2 linked regions of the Homo sapiens genome follow. The protein of the gene in region 2 purifies or fractionates together with the protein of the main gene of each other region. This does not show direct contact. Each region holds a gene or a part of one and is shown on either strand. Other genes may lie near its edges.

What was found.
Region 1: the proteins of NXPH2 (region 2) and PCDH7 purify together in Homo sapiens (affinity purification with mass spectrometry; 3 studies listed by BioGRID and IntAct, with this or other methods). This does not show direct contact.

The regions. Positions count from the first base shown.
Region 1 is NC_000004.12:31,139,869-31,143,368, reverse strand, and holds part of PCDH7 (protocadherin-7 isoform d precursor), read right to left. Parts: intron 897-3,500; coding exon 520-896; 3' UTR 1-519.
Region 2 is NC_000002.12:138,777,591-138,781,675, reverse strand, and holds the start of NXPH2 (neurexophilin-2 precursor), read left to right. Parts: upstream 1-1,285; 5' UTR 1,286-1,434; coding exon 1,435-1,485; intron 1,486-4,085. UniProt on the Homo sapiens protein: May be signaling molecules that resemble neuropeptides and that act by binding to alpha-neurexins and possibly other receptors.

The sequences.
Region 1 (3,500 bases), on a different chromosome or scaffold from region 2:
TATCACTTTCAAAGGATTGCCTTTGATGGTGATAAACCATTTTCTGATGGTATGTCTGAAATACATTTTATCTGTCCTGCTTATTTTTGACCAGCCAGATGACACTCGAACAAAATCAAAGTGACTAAAATCATGCTTCAGCTTAGGGATAATGAGGGTGTGTTGTGTTCTGCTAATCAGGCTTCGTACAGTTACTGTGAAAGAAACTTGCAACTATCCCCCTTTTTTTTTCTTTTCTTTTTGTTTTTTTTTTTTTGGAGAGGGGTGGGGAAGAGAAAGTGAGTGTTGGGAATCAGTGAAGGGGTTAGACATGCAAGTAACAAGGATGGTTTCTACATTGTACAGTAGAATCAGGCTAACAGTATCACTAAAGGCCTGATCTGGAGGCAGAAGTGGCAGGCAAAGCTTTGTCTCTTTGGTAGCCCCCTCTTTGTGATTAAACGTTTTGCTTTGTAAGGTTTTTGCCCCTTATTCTCCTTTTCATACATGTAAAGAACTTTGCTGTTGCTCCTTTATAGCCTACAGGTAAACTTCTCTTCTAGTGAGAGTATTGACAGGAGATGGCTTATATTCCCCTGTTTTTGTAAGGGGAATATCCTCAGGGTTGGCTTCCTCATTTTTGCTGAAACTAGCTGCACTGAAGGTCTCATAGGATGAGGTCAACTTTTTGTTCAGGAGGTTTCTGTTGCGGTCACCCATGATGGCGGCCTCCCCATTGGCCAGCTTTTCCTGGCTTCCTCGTTCATCAACAGGCATGAAAGTGGACAGTTTAGGCTGGCTCTTCTTCCTCTCCGGAGAAGTGCGGACCGGCATCCAGCAGGAGTCTGAGTGGCCATACTCATCACACTCACGAGTGCACTTCCCAGTCAGGGCTACATCTGGAAGAGGCCTTGAATCTGAAATCCAAGGAGAATAAGCCATTAGTATTTGACACTCCTCAACAGGCTCCCCTGATCTATATGAAATTAGAGGAAATATATAAATATATTCCTTACCATCTTATTTCTCATTTCCCAACACCCTCTAGCTCATCATTCCATAGGACAGTTTTTAATCCCATGTGCATCAAAGATAAGGTTTTGCAAGGACATCCAATATTATAGAACAGGAAAGTAGACAAAATGATACATTTAAGTGTGTAGATGAAACAGATATATGTGTGTTTGTTACAGGACAGGGACATGAGGATGGTCTCAGTTAGAAGCTCTAAATACATAGGTAAATTTGTATGGGTGCTAATATTTTCCACATCCATAAGAAAAATTATTAAATCCAAATAGACAATTTTCTGGATTTATAAATTATCCCAGAAGTGGTGTGCTTTTGCCAATTGGATTTCTTCCTGCTTATACATTATTCATAGAATGCAAATATGCAAAACCTTATATTTAAAATACATTCTAAGACATGGGGTGACTCATAAGTAGAACCTAAATTGACAGCACATTATGTGGTAAAAACTAAAAAGCAAGGAACCAGTAGTTACAGGTATAAGCATACTAGCAATATCACGCACCTGCCCACCCTAGCCCACATCCCCTCACCCCCCTCCTACCATGCCAAATGACCTAATATGTGCTGATGTGTTCACATCAAAATACACAGGCCATCTTATCTGAAATGTAATGTACTGGGTGAATACGGGTAAGTTACTAAACTTTGGATGAACTAGCCTGTACTCTAATTAATGGTGCTGTCCAATGGAATGGGAAATGACTTTTACTTCTAAAAGGCTAAATCATGTACAAAGAATTCTTAGGAAACAAGATTAAAGATGACAGTTAATAATTACCTGTATGTATAATTGAAAGCATGTGTCTGTCTTTGGAGAATGGTTATGTATTTTCTAAATATTAAACATGTTTTTACAGACTTTGTTTGAGAAAGAGAGAATGGGAGAGAGAAAAGCCTGTTCTACTTCAACAGATTCTGAGGCAATAACCTGAAGGGTTTTATTTAAAATGTTTTATTGTTTTTTATTGCCAAACAAAAGAACATAATATGACTGCATTCCAGTTGTTATCACATGGTATCATTTTATTACAAGGCTTGGGACTTAAAGACTGACGAATTTGACCTCTGAAAATATATTTGCAACCAGTGGAATCAGTGAGATGTGCATATGCACAATCCTAGTAGATTCGTTTAAAATAGAAGAGGAAGTTATTTAAATTATTCCCAAGATATGTACACTTTCTGCTTTTGCTTCCACACCCCATCCCCTGTAGTTTAACATTTGTATAGGATATTTTAGACGTTTTACTTGGCTAAATCTCCTAAATGAAGGCTCGCCACTAATGTTTGTCATTTTTTCCTTCAATGATGGGTAACTGAAGTATTGACATTTGTCGGCCCATCGATTATTGAAACAGCGTCCTGGGATTTTTATGCCCTTGACTAAGCGTTAACAAGGAAATTCTAGTGTTCTACACCGGAAATCTAGAATTAGCTGACCCTTTCCTGTAGGTAAAATGTAAGGTTAATTATTTATTCCAGTTGCCGATGCTGCCATTTGACTTACAAGTGAGCAGATTCTCTTAATTTTTTCATCAAAAGAAAAAAGTACTTTCCCACTCATTTTTTTACCCTAAATTGTCTGTTTCTCAAATACGTATCTTAGATGCATTATAATAATCAAATTATTGACAAATTTTATTAGTGGTTTTTGTAATCTAGTTGGTTTAAATGAACAAACTGCAAGTTCTTTGAGAATATTTCCTATTTTGGGATCCTTTTTTCTTTTCTTTTTTTTTTTTTTTTAACCTGACCTAAATGCTTTGAACAGGGGGAAAAAAGGATAGAAATGCAAAGTGTAAGATCAGGTCTGCATTTTACTCAAAATATTTCCTTTTTTTTTTTTCACTGCTTCAACAAATTCAAATTGCTCCTCTTTTCTTATGATAGTGAATAGCAAGGACATGGGAAAATAATCAGGAATTTAGCTTCTAAAATATAAAAAAATCTTTATGAATGTGGTTGTTATTCCCTGCAGAAATGACCCTGAATTGTCTCCAATCATCTCTCCACATTTATGTCTCACACAATATGTCATTTCACTTACACAGTGACTTATACAGGTGGCTGCTTTTCAGGGATTAATTTGTGTTTTTAGTTTGAAATTCATTGCACTTGTTTTCCTGTTGTTTGAGATGCATTATAAACAGCTTGTAATTCTATATTCATGCTCAAACAAGTCTTCTTACTTTTTAACTTGTGTACCTAAACTACCTACAGCTCATAAGAGATTATAATCATTTATTAAATAGATTGACTGAATCTCCAATCAGCTATAAGTGAGATGCTCTTCAGTTCTTTCCTTCAGTCTTTACTTCACAGTCTGGAGTATTTTCTGCCAAAATTGATTTCCTCTATTGCTTTTAACGAAAGGCAGCTTGTCTTCTGTGCCATCATATACATGCAAGCTGCCACATCTCTATCCAAGAAGCATGACTTTTAATAAGGATCTCCTGTCATTTCCAAAGTAAAACACTTGATTGGGG
Region 2 (4,085 bases):
CCCTTGCTTCAACATGGTTTTCTTCTCTAAGAGCTTTGCGTTTCTAGATGTAAGAAGCATTCTCGCCTTGGGTATTCTGTCGGAGCAACTGCCTAAAGTCTCATCCTTGGAGAAGTGAATGTATCTCTCTGGACCTTAGGTTTCCCACCTGTTCAATAAAGGAGTGACGAATGACGCCCAAACTCTGATCTACCGTAAAAACAGTGCAGGTCTGTGAGCCCCATTGCCTTTGATTTTTCCACTCGAGTGTCCAGCACAAAGATAGTAAAAGGTTAAGGATCTCTCCAATGGCGAGTTGTTAACACGGAGGTCGAGGCTCACAGGCATCAGGTTTGCACCTTCGCCCGTCCGCAAAGATACCCCTCTCCAATATTTCTGAAGTCGGAGGCTGTGGTGGGGTATCCTGCCTTTATTCTGCTTCTCCAAAGCCCGGGCAGAAGGTCTGGGAGCAACTTTGTCTGTCTTCAGGACACCTAGCTGTCTATACCATCCCCAAACCGGAGTAAACCAGACATCACCTAGCTCCGTTTCTCACAGTTCTGCTCCTGGTCCCTCGAGGTCCCCATTACTCCCCAACCCCAGAAATCCTTCCAGCCGCACCAGGCGCACTTTGTACCCCTTACCCGCGGCTCTGCGAGCTTGGCGCTGCGGCAGAGTAGGGCACTCTCCCAGGGCGTCCTGGGCTCCAGCCTCACCTCCCCGCCCCAGCCTTTTCCGTTCGCAGCTCCCCACGCCCCGCCCCAGGACTCTGCAATCGCCTTCCCCTCCTAAACTCTCTGGGCGCTCTCCAGGCGGGCGCACTCTTTCTTGCAGCCACCCAGGGAGAACCTTTTCTTCCCCTCATCCCCAATCTCCCCAGCCAAAGCGAGAGCCAGTCAGTTGGCAGGGCGCTTGGCACAGTGGAGCCTCTCGGACCGGCCTTCTGCTGGGCGGGGGTGGGAGGAGGCACCCGGCCTCTCGGGGCTCTGGGGCACCGGCTGGCCAGGCGTGCTCAGCTCGGCCAGGCATCCGCCCGGCGGGATCGGATCTGGAGGGCAGCCTCGCACTGAACCCATCACCCAAGCGCCCGAGCCGCCGCCTCCCTCCCGCAGGCGCCCCACGCGCTCACCCCAAGCCCGGCCAAGCGGGAGAGTCCAAGGCGCGACTGAAGCCCCCCGCCGCGTGCCGGAGCTCGAGCTGCCCCGCAGGCTCTTTGCCGGCCCCCTCCGAGGAGGGGCGCGCGGGGGGCCGGGAGAGGCACCTCCGGTCCGCCCACCCTCCCCCTTCCCTGCCCGCCCACCCGGCCAGAGCTGCGCGGCACGGCGCAGCGCTCGGATTCCGGGAGGGAAGCGCCGCGCTGTGTCCCTGGCGTCCTCAGTCCTGCCCCGCGAAGTGGAGATGCGCGAGAGGCAGGCGAGGGCGCGCAGCTCGTGAAAAGCCGCGCCAGCCGGCACCATGCGCCTGCGGCCGCTGCCCCTCGTGGTGGTCCCTGGCTTGCTGCAGCTGGTGAGTGCCCGGCCCGCGCGCCGTCCCACACGCCGGGGACGCGTTTCGGCGGGAAAACCGCGCAGGCGGCTGACTTGGAGCCCAGCCTGGGCCTGCTTGGGAAGTGGGGTTGGGGGCGCGCGGAGGGCAAGGAGTTTTGGGTTGCCTTAGAGGTCGAAAGGGAAGAATTGAAGAACGGAATAGACGGGATCTACAGGCGACTCAGGGGCTTAGCACGGGTTGGGACTTGAGCGCTGGGGTAAAGTAGGCAGAAGGTGGCCGGGAAGTAGGTCCGGGAGAAGGAAGCGGTTTATTGATAAGCGGTCAAGGAGAGGAAGGAAAGTAAATTGATAGGATGAGAAGGGGCAGAAAGACCTTCCTCCTGTTCACAGTTTGAGAGGCTTGGTGGTGTTTATTTTTCACGTGGTGTTTTGCCCAGATGCACACAGACACTTCTCCCAAAGCACAGCATAGTGCATGCATCCTCGTTCTCAGAGCCAGGTAGTGGCGCCTTGCTGGGAGAAAACTTAGGCAAAATACGGATTTGGGGGACAGCTTGGATTTCTCTTCGTTTTCCGTCTGGCGCTAGGGACTGGGATGGGGCTTTCTGCCAGCTGGGGACACAAGATATAACTTTCATGCCCAGCTCCGCGCAGGAGCCCCCTCTCGGGCATCTCGAAGCTGTCTTTTCAGGGAGACCGCCCGCCTGGTCTGGGTGGCTCGGAGGCGCTGAGGAATAAGAAACGTATTAAAATGTGGTTTGGGGTTCGCGTTGTCACTCTCTTCTCTCTTCCCGCGAGGCGCCACGCTCTCCTCCTCCTGATATACGCCTATGTTCTATATGCATGGCTAATTATAGTTGAGGGAAAACCAAAGTAAGATCTTCAAGAAGAAACTTTTAAAGTAAAATTACAGAAGGGGAGTGCTTTGGCTGGGTCAGCATCTGTGATGGATTTCTTCTGGTCACTTAGCTCTTGCCTTGTTAGGGTGCTATTAAGAGGGCTTTCTCCTGATGCCATAGTTTCTTTGGTCCTCATACTTAAGACTTTGCCCAAGCACTTAGAAGATGACAGTCTCTTCTCTCTCGCTCGCTCTCTCTCTCGTTCTCTTTGTCTCTTTCTTTTCCTATTAGGGGGAAAATCAAGTAACTTTGAAAGTTTATGATATGTATGATATTGTTAAGGCAGAGGCACTTTGCAAGTTCTGAGGGTGGAAGGAACTCTAAAAGGTGGAGAGACCTCTGAGATGCCCGTGGTCCATGCTTGTTACGGTGGAGATTAGCTTCACCTGCACAGCGTTAACTCAGAAACTCTTCAATGGCATCAAGAAGAAAATGCAATGATATGCCCAAATATCCTTGAATGAGCCATCACATACTGGCTATCTACAATACTCCATGTTAAAATACATTTTACATCTTAGGCATTATGAATCCAAAATATATGCCACATTAATCTTTAGTATCCCTTGCTTTAAAATTTTTTAGTCTGGATTCTAATAAAAGGTGATCTAACAAAGCAGCATTTGTATGGTGTGTGTAAGGAAAAGCCTGGGGAAATCAGGTGTTTATGTGGGGTCTTCAGAATATCTTCACGAATCTTAGTTCATTAATTTTGCATTTAATAAATATGAACTGTGTATCTGCTCCGTAAGCAGTGTGATAGGCTCTTAAAGATGAGAAAATATATTTGGGCACGTGTCGGGGAAAAGTTCTTCTCCCAGCTACTATATTGGAAATGTTAGATATTTTTTTTTTCCACACCGCCATAGTCAGTAAGGAATAGGAAATACATCTTGAAGGGATTATATGCTCTCCTTAAGAGCTAGATTCTAATATTACAGCATGGACTGATGGATTTGCTTTTAAAAAAGCTTATGTCAAATTCTAATCCATTTTGGGATTGTGCTTGGGTTGTAATGTTTTTCTCCTGGAGCACTTTATCATGGTAAGTGAGGTAGGGAGCTGCAGCCCTGTTGATAAGCACACATTCCTTACGCTGCCATCCCTTCGGACAATAAAAGGCTGTTTACATTCTCCACATTCTTAGAGCTGTTGCCAGCCTTATAACACAAGGGGGTTAGAATGTGAAAGGAAAACAGAGTGGCTGAGCATATCTAAATTGAAATATTCCCCAATCCCAGCATATGCCCTACTCCAGTAGGTGTCAAAAAGGACAGATCATGATTTGCTCATTTGGATGGCTCATAGTTTTGTTCTACCTTTTTCAGCTGATATTGAACTTCTTTGTTAAATCCTAACAGCAAGGGGATAAAATATTTTCTAGATATGAAACTAGTCATTTACTTTTCTAGGAACCATATGTACTAAAAAAATCTGCCCTTTGCTGACATAAGGCTTTTTTTTTTTTTTTTTTTTTTTAATTTTTTGGTGAGGGAGGAGTGAAGTTACCTTATTGTCGAAATTGGATTTTACTTTTCTATCTGCACTGCCAGCCTGAAGAACATACTTATAAAAAATATTAAATATTTTAAAAGAATAATAGATTCATTTGGGCATATTGAACATTTAGTGATATGAAAATTACCTGTTTGTTTCTGAAAGCAGTCACAGGGAATTGAGCCCAAATAAGTCACTAACTATGGTTATATATAACATATAT